Linked DNA regions of Homo sapiens: region 1 is linked to region 2. A link means that fine-mapping ties the variant in region 2 to the expression of a gene that starts in the linked region. Tissue or cell type: tibial nerve. Region 2 holds a variant in brackets; the other region holds the start of a gene. All regions are shown on one strand. Distances are between the middles of the regions.

What was found. PIP is the estimated chance that this variant, and not a neighbour inherited with it, causes the effect. A credible set is the group of variants that fine-mapping cannot tell apart.
Region 1: RBP3 starts here. The variant in region 2 is the best candidate, but not a certain one, in a credible set for the expression of RBP3 in tibial nerve (GTEx, PIP 0.80).

Annotation. Positions count from the first base shown.
Region 1 is chr10:47,344,984-47,353,088 of GRCh38, forward strand. RBP3 (retinol binding protein 3) reads left to right here and starts at 3,380. Exons shown (of 4, transcript NM_002900.3): 1 at 3,380-6,555. The coding sequence starts at 3,502.
Region 2 is chr10:47,368,146-47,376,250 of GRCh38, forward strand. ZNF488 (zinc finger protein 488) reads right to left here. Exons shown (of 2, transcript NM_153034.4): 2 at 1-792. The coding sequence starts at 684. Among named protein-coding and RNA genes, the nearest start is that of ZNF488, 12 kb to the right of the region's middle. The variant T/C (reference allele first, on the strand shown) is at 4,826.

The sequences.
Region 1 (8,105 bases), 23 kb before region 2:
AAAGGGGTAATAAAATGTCTGTGGTAGAATCTAGGGAGGCAGCCATTAAACTAAGGTGGCTCTAACGCCCTGATTTCCTACAAGAGCAAATTGAAATCTAACTCAGACTCATTTACTGTAAGCAGCTAATTTAAAAGAAACCGAAGCTTAAGTCCAGCCAACCACTGATGGCCAACTGGACATCAGTTGCATGGTCTCGAACTTTCCACTAGGATGTCCCAAATCATGCAAGGGCCGAAACGCTAAGCAACCAAAGCATCTGTAATATTTATTCCACTTCTGCCTTCACCCTGTGGAAGCCTCCCCTTGTGCTCCCTTGCAGAGCCCCAAACTGCCTCTTGTGGGGAGCTACCAGATTCATGAATCGCTATCTGCTCGGATAAGTTCTTTAAAATGTGAACATGTCAAAGCATTTCTTTAAATGATGGCATATAGATATTTGCTGTACCACTTGAACATTTCCATTATAAAACATCGAGGGGAAAACTAACATAAAACAATAGACAGACGAGGGCTTTGGCCACTGAAAAGACAACATCTGTGATGCAATAGGCAAGACGCTCCTTCCTGTACTGCCCAGCTCCGCTTGCTCCCTGACCATCCCTGCAGCAGCCCTGATGTGTCATTGTCCCCCTCTTAACCTGCGCTGCAGGTGCTGCAGGGCTGGGCTCTGGAGCCTGGGTCTGGTCATTTCTCCTTAGATATGTAGAGGCCCAGGAAAGGTTTGGAGCCTAAGAAGCCCTAGGACTCCAGGTCTCCAGGGCAGCCCCAGCCTCTTGGAATGACTTTCCCTAATACCACAGGGGTGTTCTAATCCCAGGCAGACCCAAGCTGCCCCTCACCAACTCCTACGTCCTCAACTTCCTTTCATAACTTCTAGGATGGAAACACCTAATCCTCCAGCAATACTGAGGCTTTTCTCCTTATTCTGTTTTCCCTTTTGAAGAAGCCAAGGCTCAGAGCAGTCGAGTCACCTAATCATGGTCTCATGTCGCCTGATCAAGGTCTCATGTCACCTTATCAAGATCTCACCCACTCACCTATTCAGTTCTCACCAGTTCAGTTCAGGATGGCTTCTAAGCTACCCTGCACAGCTCTGCCCACAGGACATTTGTATAAGTGAGGGGGTGCAGGGCCTTCCAGCCCCCTCCAACTCCAAAACTCAGCCCCCAAGATCAAGTGGACTCTCTGAACCCACCCTGGCCCTACAGTTGTCAGGGTCTGGATGGGAAGATGTAGAGCTCTCGGCTTTCACTCTGGGGACTTACCCAGAACATATTCTCCTCATGAGCTAAGGAGGCTGGCTGCCATCTTCCTACATCCCCCCACGGCCTGGGGGCAAGGACACCCTGGCCCCCTGGAGTCTGGAGAACTCTGAGGACAGAACTTGCTCTTCCACCTGCTTGGGCCTTACCCACAGGAGAAGCACTGCTTCTCTACCCATGCCCCATCCAACTCAGGCACCCCAGGGACTTGCAACAGTCTGATTTTTTCTCACGTCCTTCTTAAGGCTCTGGGCTAGCCACACAAATCAAATCCCAGTGATAGGTCCAGACAATCCTATCCTGAAACTACATCTTAGTAAGACTCCAGGGAATCCTTTCCCCAAAGACAGTCTTACTCCTGTTCTCCCCCAAGCCCTTTCTGGGCCAGAAGCTTTGCCTGGACTCAAGCAATGGCAGACAAGTGCCCTCTGAGGACACGGAAGTGCATGCTCAGAACTGTGATTCTCCAAGTGGAGGCAGAGGAGAAGGCCCAGGCTTCCCAGCAGGGCTAAGGATATGCAAGGAGTGCATTCATCCGGAGGTGTTGGCAGCATCCCAGCCCCACCCCATTCTCATCGTAAATCAGGCTCACTTCCATTGGCTGCATACGGTGGAGTGATGTGACCATATGTCACTTGAGCATTACACAAATCCTAATGAGCTAAAAATATGTTTGTTTTAGCTAATTGACCTCTTTGGCCTTCATAAAGCAGTTGGTAAACATCCTCAGATAATGATTTCCAAAGAGCAGATTGTGGGTCTCAGCTGTGTAGAGAAAGCCCACGTCCCTGAGACCACCTTCTCCAGCTGCCTACTGAGGCACACAGGGGCGCCTGCCTGCTGCCCGCTCAGCCAAGGCGGTGTTGCTGGAGCCAGCTTGGGACAGCTCTCCCAACGCTCTGCCCTGGCCTTGCGACCACTCTCTGGGCCGTAGTTGTCTGTCTGTTAAGTGAGGAAAGTGCCCATCTCCAGAGGCATTCAGCGGCAAAGCAGGGCTTCCAGGTTCCGACCCCATAGCAGGACTTCTTGGATTTCTACAGCCAGTCAGTTGCAAGCAGCACCCACATTATTTCTATAAGAAGTGGCAGGAGCTGGGATCTGAAGAGTTCAGCAGTCTACCTTTCCCTGTTTCTTGTGCTTTATGCAGTCAGGAGGAATGATCTGGATTCCATGTGAAGCCTGGGACCACGGAGACCCAAGACTTCCTGCTTGATTCTCCCTGCGAACTGCAGGCTGTGGGCTGAGCCTTCAAGAAGCAGGAGTCCCCTCTAGCCATTAACTCTCAGAGCTAACCTCATTTGAATGGGAACACTAGTCCTGTGATGTCTGGAAGGTGGGCGCCTCTACACTCCACACCCTACATGGTGGTCCAGACACATCATTCCCAGCATTAGAAAGCTGTAGGGGGACCCGTTCTGTTCCCTGGAGGCATTAAAGGGACATAGAAATAAATCTCAAGCTCTGAGGCTGATGCCAGCCTCAGACTCAGCCTCTGCACTGTATGGGCCAATTGTAGCCCCAAGGACTTCTTCTTGCTGCACCCCCTATCTGTCCACACCTAAAACGATGGGCTTCTATTAGTTACAGAACTCTCTGGCCTGTTTTGTTTTGCTTTGCTTTGTTTTGTTTTGTTTTTTTGTTTTTTTGTTTTTTAGCTATGAAACAGAGGTAATATCTAATACAGATAACTTACCAGTAATGAGTGCTTCCTACTTACTGGGTACTGGGAAGAAGTGCTTTACACATATTTTCTCATTTAATCTACACAATAAGTAATTAAGACATTTCCCTGAGGCCACGGGAGAGACAGTGGCAGAACAGTTCTCCAAGGAGGACTTGCAAGTTAATAACTGGACTTTGCAAGGCTCTGGTGGAAACTGTCAGCTTGTAAAGGATGGAGCACAGTGTCTGGCATGTAGCAGGAACTAAAATAATGGCAGTGATTAATGTTATGATATGCAGACACAACACAGCAAGATAAGATGCAATGTACCTTCTGGGTCAAACCACCCTGGCCACTCCTCCCCGATACCCAGGGTTGATGTGCTTGAATTAGACAGGATTAAAGGCTTACTGGAGCTGGAAGCCTTGCCCCAACTCAGGAGTTTAGCCCCAGACCTTCTGTCCACCAGCTGAGAAGGACAAGGGCGGAAGGCAGCTGCACAGAGCAGGGCCACGGCCTTGCACACAGTCCAGGGAGCTTTTGTGCAGGAGCCAGGCCTCCCCCTGGGTCCCCATGATGAGAGAATGGGTTCTGCTCATGTCCGTGCTGCTCTGTGGCCTGGCTGGCCCCACACACCTGTTCCAGCCAAGCCTGGTGCTGGACATGGCCAAGGTCCTCTTGGATAACTACTGCTTCCCGGAGAACCTGCTGGGCATGCAGGAAGCCATCCAGCAGGCCATCAAGAGCCATGAGATTCTGAGCATCTCAGACCCGCAGACGCTGGCCAGTGTGCTGACAGCCGGGGTGCAGAGCTCCCTGAACGATCCTCGCCTGGTCATCTCCTATGAGCCCAGCACCCCCGAGCCTCCCCCACAAGTCCCAGCACTCACCAGCCTCTCAGAAGAGGAACTGCTTGCCTGGCTGCAAAGGGGCCTCCGCCATGAGGTTCTGGAGGGTAATGTGGGCTACCTGCGGGTGGACAGCGTCCCGGGCCAGGAGGTGCTGAGCATGATGGGGGAGTTCCTGGTGGCCCACGTGTGGGGGAATCTCATGGGCACCTCCGCCTTAGTGCTGGATCTCCGGCACTGCACAGGAGGCCAGGTCTCTGGCATTCCCTACATCATCTCCTACCTGCACCCAGGGAACACCATCCTGCACGTGGACACTATCTACAACCGCCCCTCCAACACCACCACGGAGATCTGGACCTTGCCCCAGGTCCTGGGAGAAAGGTACGGTGCCGACAAGGATGTGGTGGTCCTCACCAGCAGCCAGACCAGGGGCGTGGCCGAGGACATCGCGCACATCCTTAAGCAGATGCGCAGGGCCATCGTGGTGGGCGAGCGGACTGGGGGAGGGGCCCTGGACCTCCGGAAGCTGAGGATAGGCGAGTCTGACTTCTTCTTCACGGTGCCCGTGTCCAGGTCCCTGGGGCCCCTTGGTGGAGGCAGCCAGACGTGGGAGGGCAGCGGGGTGCTGCCCTGTGTGGGGACTCCGGCCGAGCAGGCCCTGGAGAAAGCCCTGGCCATCCTCACTCTGCGCAGCGCCCTTCCAGGGGTAGTCCACTGCCTCCAGGAGGTCCTGAAGGACTACTACACGCTGGTGGACCGTGTGCCCACCCTGCTGCAGCACTTGGCCAGCATGGACTTCTCCACGGTGGTCTCCGAGGAAGATCTGGTCACCAAGCTCAATGCCGGCCTGCAGGCTGCGTCTGAGGATCCCAGGCTCCTGGTGCGAGCCATCGGGCCCACAGAAACTCCTTCTTGGCCCGCGCCCGACGCTGCAGCCGAAGACTCACCAGGGGTGGCCCCAGAGTTGCCTGAGGACGAGGCTATCCGGCAAGCACTGGTGGACTCTGTGTTCCAGGTGTCGGTGCTGCCAGGCAATGTGGGCTACCTGCGCTTCGATAGTTTTGCTGACGCCTCCGTCCTGGGTGTGTTGGCCCCATATGTCCTGCGCCAGGTGTGGGAGCCGCTACAGGACACGGAGCACCTCATCATGGACCTGCGCCACAACCCTGGAGGGCCATCCTCTGCTGTGCCCCTGCTCCTGTCCTACTTCCAGGGCCCTGAGGCCGGCCCCGTGCACCTCTTCACCACCTATGATCGCCGCACCAACATCACGCAGGAGCACTTCAGCCACATGGAGCTCCCGGGCCCACGCTACAGCACCCAACGTGGGGTGTATCTGCTCACCAGCCACCGCACCGCCACGGCCGCGGAGGAGTTCGCCTTCCTTATGCAGTCGCTGGGCTGGGCCACACTGGTAGGTGAGATCACCGCGGGCAACCTGCTGCACACCCGCACGGTGCCGCTGCTGGACACACCCGAAGGCAGCCTCGCGCTCACCGTGCCGGTCCTCACCTTCATCGACAATCACGGCGAGGCCTGGCTGGGTGGTGGAGTGGTGCCCGATGCCATCGTGCTGGCCGAGGAGGCCCTGGACAAAGCCCAGGAAGTGCTGGAGTTCCACCAAAGCCTGGGGGCCTTGGTGGAGGGCACAGGGCACCTGCTGGAGGCCCACTATGCTCGGCCAGAGGTCGTGGGGCAGACCAGTGCCCTCCTGCGGGCCAAGCTGGCCCAGGGCGCCTACCGCACAGCTGTGGACTTGGAGTCTCTGGCCTCTCAGCTCACAGCAGACCTCCAGGAGGTGTCTGGGGACCACCGCTTGCTAGTGTTCCACAGCCCTGGCGAGCTGGTGGTAGAGGAAGCACCCCCACCACCCCCTGCTGTCCCCTCTCCAGAGGAGCTCACCTACCTTATTGAGGCCCTGTTCAAGACAGAGGTGCTGCCCGGCCAGCTGGGCTACCTGCGTTTTGACGCCATGGCTGAACTGGAGACAGTGAAGGCCGTGGGGCCACAGCTGGTGCGGCTGGTATGGCAACAGCTGGTGGACACGGCTGCGCTGGTGATCGACCTGCGCTACAACCCTGGCAGCTACTCCACGGCCATCCCGCTGCTCTGCTCCTACTTCTTTGAGGCAGAGCCCCGCCAGCACCTGTATTCTGTCTTTGACAGGGCCACCTCAAAAGTCACGGAGGTGTGGACCTTGCCCCAGGTCGCCGGCCAGCGCTACGGCTCACACAAGGACCTCTACATCCTGATGAGCCACACCAGTGGCTCTGCGGCCGAGGCCTTTGCACACACCATGCAGGACCTGCAGCGGGCCACGGTCATTGGGGAGCCCACGGCCGGAGGCGCACTCTCTGTGGGCATCTACCAGGTGGGCAGCAGCCCCTTATATGCATCCATGCCCACCCAGATGGCCATGAGTGCCACCACAGGCAAGGCCTGGGACCTGGCTGGTGTGGAGCCCGACATCACTGTGCCCATGAGCGAAGCCCTTTCCATAGCCCAGGACATAGTGGCTCTGCGTGCCAAGGTGCCCACGGTGCTGCAGACGGCCGGGAAGCTGGTGGCTGATAACTATGCCTCTGCCGAGCTGGGGGCCAAGATGGCCACCAAACTGAGCGGTCTGCAGAGCCGCTACTCCAGGGTGACCTCAGAAGTGGCCCTAGCCGAGATCCTGGGGGCTGACCTGCAGATGCTCTCCGGAGACCCACACCTGAAGGCAGCCCATATCCCTGAGAATGCCAAGGACCGCATTCCTGGAATTGTGCCCATGCAGGTGAGACCCAAGAGAGACCTGGCTGAACCCAGTCCCGGGAGTGAGTTGACCCATTGTCCGCACATGCAGGGCTCTGTGCACAGTGCGTGACAATGGCTTTTAGATTTGTTCTCACGTTTAAGTTTTGACCGGTCAAGTCCTTTCCTCTTTCTCAACCTGTTCCATCCACTCTCTGTGACCCTGGGGTTGCTGAACACCTCTGTAGAACATTCATATTAGGTTGGTGCAAAAGTACTTTCAATGGCAAAACCCGCAATTACTTTTGCACCCACCTCACAGGAAGCCAGTTTGAAAGCCAACCAATACTCACAGGAAGCCAGTTCGGAAGCTCCTGGGATAGAAGGCATTTCAGCCTTGGCTGGGTGGAAGGTGAGTGTTGGCAGGGCTTCTCATTGTCAGTGCTAGGGAAGAGGCCAACACCTGTCAGAGGTGGCCAATGGACTTCACCAAGTGCCCCACGCTGGCCGAGAGCTCCACCTAGGCAGCACTCACACCTCCACACTGTTCTACCTGTGGTCTGCTGCATCGTCACAATTGGGCAGGGCAGCATTTGCCATGGGATCCCTTGCAAGGAGGGTCTGAGACCAGGGCTTGGGTGCAGGCGCTTTGTCTGGGAGGCGGTTACTGAAGCAGGCATGAAGGAGGGAGCAGGGAGAGTGGGTTGGGAAGCTGACAGGCAGGTGCCTCAAAGCTGTTCTGCTGAAGCCAGGACCCTGACGAGTGCAGGGATGCTCCCAGGCATAGCCCTCTGCAGGCAGGGCCCAGTGGTTCCTGTCCCGCATTGGCCAAGAGTTGCCCTGAGACATGCCTCAGGGTGGGGCAGGCTCCCTCTTCTTGGAGAAGGCCTGAGCTACGGGTGGAAAGGCAGGGCTGTGCTATAGGAGAGCCTGTCAGTGGGGTCGGGTGCAGCTGAAAGCAGAGGGGGCTGAGAGTGCCAAAAGCATCTACTACAGAATTGTTATCCCCATTTTCCGCAACTGAGGCCCGGAGAGGAGCAGAGGGGAGTGGCCTGAGGCCAGAGAGCTGTGACTGAGGGCAGGGCAGGGCCTGGAGGGCAGTGTCTCTGTCAATGAAGTCTCCTTGCCTGTCAATCTCACCAAGACCTGCCTCCCTCCAGCAGCCTTAGAGAGGGAGGAGGAGGTGCATCCACGTGCGAGTAGCCTGTGCTAGGCTTGCAGAATCCCCAGTTTCCAAATCAACATCTCCTTCCTTTCCAGTATAGCCAAGGTTCACGATTTGGAGTCAGATGTGGATTCAGATTCTGGCTCCACCACTTACTGACTGTGTGACCTGAGACTAGTTACTTAATCTCTCTGTGCTTCAGTTTTTCCATGGAAAAGATGGGGATCGTGTTATCTCCTGTACAGGTGGCTGTGAGGATGATGATAAGCTCTACAAAGTGCTTAGTACCGGGCCAGGTGCCTGGTAAAGGTAACTAACATCTTCCAATCCTGCCCCAGTGGAGCAGCTTAGAGACATAGGAAGTATCTGGTAAGGTTGGAGAGGTCAGAGGGGAGTCCATTCCTGGGCCTTCTAGCTCAGGACACCAG
Region 2 (8,105 bases):
TGGAGCATTCTGTGGCAATGCTTGCAAGTTCCACAAATCACCAACCAAAAGCTTGGGAGTTGAAAGTCGACCCCAACAAGCGAGGTCTGTAGTGTTGAGGAGTCCAGACAGCTCCCCCAGGGCATCTGCAGATTCCCCTGCAGGGAAGACTGAGGTTAGCTCAGGCCTCTCTGCTGGTCGCTTGGTTGGTTTGCTAAAGGCGCTTCTTTGCTCACTTCGTGCTCCGCTGGGCCACACAGAGAAGACTTTGCTGCCAGCTGGGCCTCTGGGGATGTTCTGGGTCAGCTGTGGGGCACCAGGTTGGCCTGTGGGGTCATCGTGCTCCCTCTCCTGGGCCTGAGCATCCACCTGCCGGTCCTTCATCCTCGGCAGCTCCGTGAAGGCGCTCTGCCTCTGCTCTCCACGTGTCTTCGGGGGCAGCGGCTTGCCAGGTCGGGGCTTGCCTGGGGCTACCAACAGTGCCAGCTCCGCACTGCCCACATCCCGGCCCGCCCTGCCCACAGCAGCCTCAGGGCCCAGGCGGTTCGTCTTCTCGAGCAGCACTGGCTTGCAGCCCCGGCCCAGCTCAGGTTCGCTAAGTCGCCATCTGTTTTCAGCCGATGGGCTCAACGGGGCTCCCTTCCCAGCTGCCATGGTGATCACCAGGGCCGGGGCCACAGATAAGCAAGGTGGCCACTCTGGCATTCATCAGTCTTTGGGGGTTTGGGGTTCTGGAGGGCTTGGCCCAGCAAGGAGCCATGAGATATGGAAGCTCCCCATGACACTGGGCTGGACACACTCGGCCACAGGGCCCTGCAGAGAGAGGAAGCGACAGGCAGTGAGATGGGCATTCATCACTCAGGCACAGTGCATCATGAGCTGGCATCAGACAGGACCCTGATGCTCAGGCCTCCTCCGCTGTCTGTGGGATGGGTGTGCTGACTGCACCACCTCTCAGGAGACAAGGAGCATGGATGGCACCATCCTCCAGGGCCCACCTCCCTGAGGCAGAGTAGGGACTGAGGTCTCTGCTGAAAATGCCCATGGGCAGCAGCCTCTACAGCTCAGTAGAGAGAAACGTAGGATTCCCCTGTCAAAAGTGGTTCCTGGGGATTAACCAGGCATGAAATGGAGAGTCTGCAGGGGAAGGGAAAGAGCCTGCTCTGGGGGCTGCATTAGGGCCTTGGGGGCCCTTCAGAAGTTTCTGGGTCATCTGTCAACAAGTAGACTCCATCATGAGGAAGCCATGCACCCTCAGCCCCTGCTCCATGCTCGAGCTACCTCTGGCCCTGGCTGAGTGCTGAGGGCACAGGGAGGCCGCAGCATGAGGGTCGCAGTGTTGGAGGACCATGGACTTCATGGTCTTTGCTCCTCATGCAGCCCTCTCTGTCCCGACCCTAATTTCAACCCATTGCTCCTCGGTCTACCAGACCTGCCTCCCAGCCTGGTGGCCCCTTTGTCCACATCACATGCCCTGTCAGCTTCTGCGCGGTCTCTGATTTTCTCAGAGCCATGCTTCTTGTGAGAGTCAAGTGTCCCCACTCTTCCCCCAACTCCCAAGTACATGTGGGCAGCTTCATTCCCATCGTACCTGTGAACTCATTCCAAAATGCACCTCAGGCACAGTCTCCCCTTGAGGCTTGCCCAGTGCTCTCAGACACAGACAACACTCCCTCCTCCATGCCCTCACTGTCCTGGGCACCAAAGGCCTGCATGCACCACGTGCAACATTATATTTACTTGTTTGTGGTCTGCTAGAAGGCAAACTCTAAGAACCCAAATATGTCAATTCACCTTCACATCTGTAGTACTTAATCAAGCCTGCAACAGGACAGGAGCTCAGGAAGCCTTTGCTGAATGAATGAATGAATGAATGAATGACAGGACAGCAACTGTTAGAAAGAAGTCAACTTCCTCCTCCCAAAGAGTGTGGAGACCTGCTCCTGCACAGAGAGGAGAATGTGAGCCCTCCATATTCCCATAGGGCCAAGGGAGGAGACATCCGCATGGTGAGAAGGGCGAGGAGCCTACTGCAGCCTGCCTCTGAGCTTCTCCACCTCCTGCTCCTTCCCTGTGCTCCTTGCTGGGCACTTGGCCCCTGCCCAGTCCATAGCTCAGGCGCAGGTGGGGAAACCACTAGCTGTAGCAGAAGGGTATGCTTTGCTTTCCAACTCTGATGTAAAATCAAACTATGAAGCTCCACCAAGGGCGTCCAACCTATTCCCATTTCCTCATCTCCCCTTGGTTCCAACCCCAGTGAGAACCCACCCAGCTTTTCCTTAGGGAAATAGCCCACCAGCCTGTATTCTGAGAGCTCTCTAAGAATACAGCTGATTGGCCTGTGGGTGCCAAGAGTCACCTTAAGGGTGGAGGTCACACAAGGGCCTGGAACTCTGAAAGTACTCTCCCTCAGGCGCTGGACTAACAACAGTCTGACCATGGCTGGAAGAGGCAGGCTGAAGGGTCAGATCTGCCTAACAGGAGAGGGAAATGAGGCATGGTTTATAGTGGTGAAAGCAACAAGCAAGTAAATGCGTAACTCCAGAGACATGGTGAACAAAGCAGGATGCATACGCAAGACGAAGCACTGTGCAGCCTCGGACAGTGATGCTCGCTATGCTTATGAACGAATGCTGAGGAGGCAAAAGGACAAAAAGATTATAGATTTGGTGTAACCTATTCTATGCACACACACACACAAAATGCATACACCAAAGGAAAAACCCCAGGAGGAAACACAGAAAATGACCACCAGGTCATTTGTTCATTGATTCCCTCTTCCGTTCATTCCGCAAGCATTCACTGAGAGCATGCAGCATGCGGGCCCTGTGCGAGGCGCGGTAGTGACAGTGGTGATGAGGCAGTCCTGAGTTCAGCTGTACAGAACACAGGGACCTGCACATGTGCCAGTGTTGCAAACAGGCAATGGTGGCATCTAAACTGAGCTCTGAGGACCCAGAAGGGACTGCCCAGGGTTCACAAGAAGCTTGCATGGGGCCTGTGGTGTGGAAAACCTGAGGGCTCTCTGGGGAACTGAGCCTAACATAGTTCTGCAGTGGGAGAGTGCCCGGGGAGGGGCAGGATCCAGAAGCCAAAATAAAATGGACCTGACTGTTTTTAGAAATAAATGATTCATTTTTTAAGTGTGGCTATAAAGACTACGCAATAGTATGGGAAAAAAAAGCTTATAATACAATGTTAGTGTCAGATATAAACATGTTGTAAAACAAAACAGGAAAAAAGCCTATCTACCAAATAAACAAAAACATGAAAGAAAACATACCAAAGCAATAGATATGTGAAAAATAATTTTTACTATGTACATACACCATATAACATATAGTATACATAGTATGTATACATAATATACCATATAATACACTATATATGTAATGTGCTATATACTATGATGATGCTAGTATCATGGAATTTGGGGGAGTTTTTTCTCAACTTTCCAATATTTTCAAACTACTCTAGTCTTATTTTAGCATTTTGTTTTGTTCTGCAGTCAACTGTTTTAAAGGCGGCAGTGCCCTTTTCTGCTTGGTCGGGGTCAGAATTCTGTAAGGGATTCTCACGGCCCAGTGGAGCTGAAGCCTCTGTGACTTCAGAGATGCTACTTTCCTAACTGCTCCAGGAAATCATTCTGAGGTGAATTCCTCCCACTGTCTACTCTCCTTTGGAAAAGAGGAGTCCTAGCCCCCACGCTGGAGTGCTCTGGCTGGAGTTTCCTGGGAGCGGAGGGGCCTTCCCAGTGGGTGGACTATTTCTCATGGGGGCTTCACAGTCTGTTTCACACTGCCTAGAGAGACCCCTCCTCTGCCAAGCCTGGAACTGAGCATTCCCTGGGCCACAGGAACAAAAGGAGAGCTTTGGAAGAAGGGTGAAATGCCTGGGCACTCAGATCAGATCAGATCAGCTTTTAGGCAAAGTGCATTTCATTTTCTGTTCATTCATTCACTCAGTAAACATGCAAAAAGCACCTACTATGTGCCAGGCTCCAGTCTACATAAGACTGGTGACTCTCAACACTGACTGAATTCTAAGTAGTTGGAAATGACTGGAGAGTAGGGTGAGTGTGCAGTGTGGCCTGGAGAATGCATGTGGAGTTCAGAGTAGGAAGGTCCCCTGTGGAGGCCCAGAGAAAACTTCAGGGCTAGATGCAGTCCTGAAACAGCAGCCCTGGCCCTGCCCATGCTTGAATGCAGGAAGAGAACCTGAAATGTGGGGACAAAGAGCAACTGGCCAAGAACAGAGCCGGTGATGCTCAGGGGAGGGACACCCTCCTGTCAGCCCTCCCCACCCACCCCTTCTATGCACCAGCCTGTATCCAGTAACATGTCGCAAGGTCTTTGCTGGAAGCTCAAGCCTCCTCTGCTTTCTAAGCATGGAGAAGACAGAGACCAGTGTGAAGTATAGGTCAAGAAAAAAAATAAAGAGAAGGAGAAAACAGAGAAAATGCATAAAGATTCCCAGCTTTAAACCTTCTTCCACCTCCATCGTTGCCCCAAATTCCTCCAGGGCTCTCTGTCATGAAAATTTCAGAAAGTGCATGAGAAAACTTTGCAAATGAAGTCAGGGGTCACAGGCAGGGGAAAGTACTGGTCTCAGACTAGGCCAGATAAAGAAAAATATCAAAGACATCAGGAGAGCACCGACCTCGCCCATGGGATGCCTGCCGCAGTGAGATGCCACGCACCTGGCCTAAGTGAGAGGTGGACACACTCCCCTGGCAGCCACCATCTGGGGGTTCAACCTCATGTGTGTCCAGAGCTCTTGATGGGTGATGGAGGGATGGGCAGAGGCTGCTTCATCCCCACTGGAATCAGGCACCTCCTGCCGGGTG[T/C]TGACACAGATGTGAGGAAGGAAGGAAGCCACACCTATGGCAGACTGAGCTCTGTGGCTTACTCTGCCTTGGCGTGTCATGGGGCCACTGACCCCCATCACACTAGATTTTTCCAACCCCAGCAAACACACAGAACTCAGCCACCCTCACAGAGTCTCAAAAATAAAGGCTCTAGTGCTTGGCAAGTAAGAAATTAGGTCCATGCATGTGGCAAAAGTTAGACACAGTGAGCTTTGCTGGTTTTTCCCTCTGTTTTCCTTCCTCGGCAACATTCTTAAAAGAAAAATCAAAATAGTAATTACAACAAAAATGTCCTTGTTATCCTTCAGAGAGCACGGCACTGTATTTTCTTCACTCTAATGACTATTGCATCTATTTCCAAGCTTCAGACTATTAATAATACACAGGAATACCAAGAAGCAAATTAAAACAGAAAGGCACAAAAAGTAGAATGGGAAAGACGTGGGTTTGAATCTCACCTCCACGCATTTATTATGGAGCTTCAGTTGTGTAATGCAACTTCTCTGAATACTGGGCAATCGTGAAATGAGTGGGAACATAATGCATTTAAATAGGATAATAATATCTAGAAGGAGGCTCCCACCTCACCCGGCCCATGTCAGTGCCTCAGGAACGTTCATTTATTTCTTTGTGATCAAGGGACAGGAACAAAATGTACGGCATGGAGAAGTAAACAAAAGAATCAATGACTGTACACAGCCATGCTGCTGGGACATGGGACACCTTCTCCAAGCCCAAGATGGAGAGAGGCAAAGTCTTCCATAGACGGAACATCACTCTCCTAACTAAAATAGTTGCATTCTCAAAGATACAAAATGTGCCACTTTCTTAACTGAATAAACGCAGGCAGCATGGCGAGGAAGGACGGCCCAGCAGGCCTTGCCCAGTGTACCCTGAGAGAACACCAAACATTCTGCTCTTAGGTGCTCCATCCACCTACACTGTTTTATTCCCATGCCTTCACCAGATGTTGAAATGTGCTGCCAAATCAAACCTAGACGTAAGACAAACCAAAATAACAAGGAAAGCTTGCTGGTTAAGACTGAGAAACAGCGTGGGGTGGGCAAAAGCTAAGATGCTCGGGTATGAGTCTCAACTTCAGTGTTTCTAGATGGCCTTGGGCAGGTCCTTGTCCTTCAAAGATCTTGCTCAGCTGCAAAATGAGGAGGCTGCACCAGGTGTCCTCTATGGTCCTAAATACTATAAGGCGCCGAGTGACATCTTTATGTGGCATTATGATGCATCTTTTGTGATCAATCTGGTTTTTTAGACATTATTTTGACAAGCTAAAGGGCAAAAAATGCAGATCTAATAATCAGCTGTGACACAGCATGATACTTCTGTCAGCCATAGCCATACCCAGACTAAGTTGCTCTTCTAATGTTCATGAATATTCAAATACAAACAGGACTGTGGACTCCTTCTAAAAGAGGTGGATTAATAGGTCCCAGGAGCAGATCCCTGGTTACCTTGACACTCCACAGTGATTTCTCACATCCCTTAGGTTCCAGCAATCAGGGCTTCCCACCTGCAGACAGCAGCCTCTACCTGGGTAGTTTAAACAGAAAGGAACTTATTAAAGGCTATCATGCAGCTCATTAAATCCCTGTGAGAGCCAGAGACCAAGCTTGGGAGCTCTCCAAGGGTCAGGGTAGCCAGAAAAAAAAGCCTAACCATGCCCTGGCACTGTCTAGTAGAAACTGCTGGTACCAGCACCAATCACAAGGGACCAAACTCCTACAAAGTCCACCACAGCCACCCCACAAGTCCAGATGTCCCTGCCACCGTGAGTGACAGATATCACCTGCATGCCAAAGACTTCAGCTCATGGGACTCGACTGCACATCCGGGGCTGGGTGATGTATCTGGCTGCTTGTGAGGATCTGTGTCAAAGGCCTGCACCCTGGCTGCAAAAGAGTCTGGGAAACATGGATTTAGCTTCCCAACCTCTGCAGTGCAGGAAAGCCAAGTGAGATGGGGTTAGAAACAGTTGTTGACTGAACCAATGACAGTATCTGTTACTGTGGCACTTAATAAAGCTCACCCCCTGACGAAACTGAGTGGACACAGCCACGCAATTCTGTCTGAAGGTTTTCGTCTCTGCCTGCAACTTGATTTTCTTGGTATGCAGCCAGTGGTGTGCTGGAGCCAGCTCACAGTGGCTTGTGAGATGATCAGGAATGTTTCAAGTTAGCTGTTTTAACTCAGACATTATTCAAAACTAAACTATACAAACTTACAGTCAAAGAAGTTATATTAAAAACACAGGCAATACATACTCAGAACCCATCATTTCCTAGTCATTCTACTACACATTCCCATTGCCTACGCTGTGGACGCTGCTCCACCTGCCGGTGCGGGGGCTTGCCACGGTCCACTCCTCCTCATGCCACATCCAGGGATATCGTGAGTGGCCAGAAATCAGGGAATCAGCCAGAATGGGATTATTTATGGAAATGCTATAAATCAAGGCTTGATTTCTTGTTTTGTTCATTGTCTGGACTTAAGAAAGTAATGGAAAAAAATTGTCAATAATGCAGATTAAACTGAAATTTTTGTCTTGTCGATAGCTGTTATATTGTGAATAGCTCACAAAAAGCTGAGGGACTATTCTTCTAGTATTCCGAAACTATTATGTGATTTAGGAAAGAAGTTATTTAGATCACTGACAAACAAGTGAAGTTCTGACATATGTTCATTGTTCCACTTTCATCTTACACTTTATTGTAAATGAAAATATCACCCAAAATCCATGTTGCAGCTACATGCTGAGAACCAGCTGTTAAACACTTACCACACACCACAGCATGTACCCCATATACTTTCTAATTCTGGGCACCAGAATAATCAGAGAGACCCTCCTGGAAGAGGCAGGAGGCCTCCAAAGGGCAGACAGATACAAAGAAAAGAGAGGGCAGAAAGAACGGCACACGCGAATGCCAGGCAGTGACAAGAGTGGGTTAGACGTAAATCGAGAGTGTTTGTGAGGACTGTTTATGGGTAAGATCACATGGTCTAGCCACAGGGACCCACACCATATCTCTTAGGGGAGACAGTCGTTCTTTTATTCTGTGATAACAGGATGAATAGCATGGAAGTATTGCTCCACATGCAATGAGAGAGAAAAACACCTCTTCGTAACAGGACCTGGGATGGAGACAAGCCCACTTGAGTGGTTTGGGAGAAATGCTTCAAGATCAGGGATGGACCATGGACTGCCTGGGGTGCCTGAGGAATGTCCCATTGAGGAGGTGATATT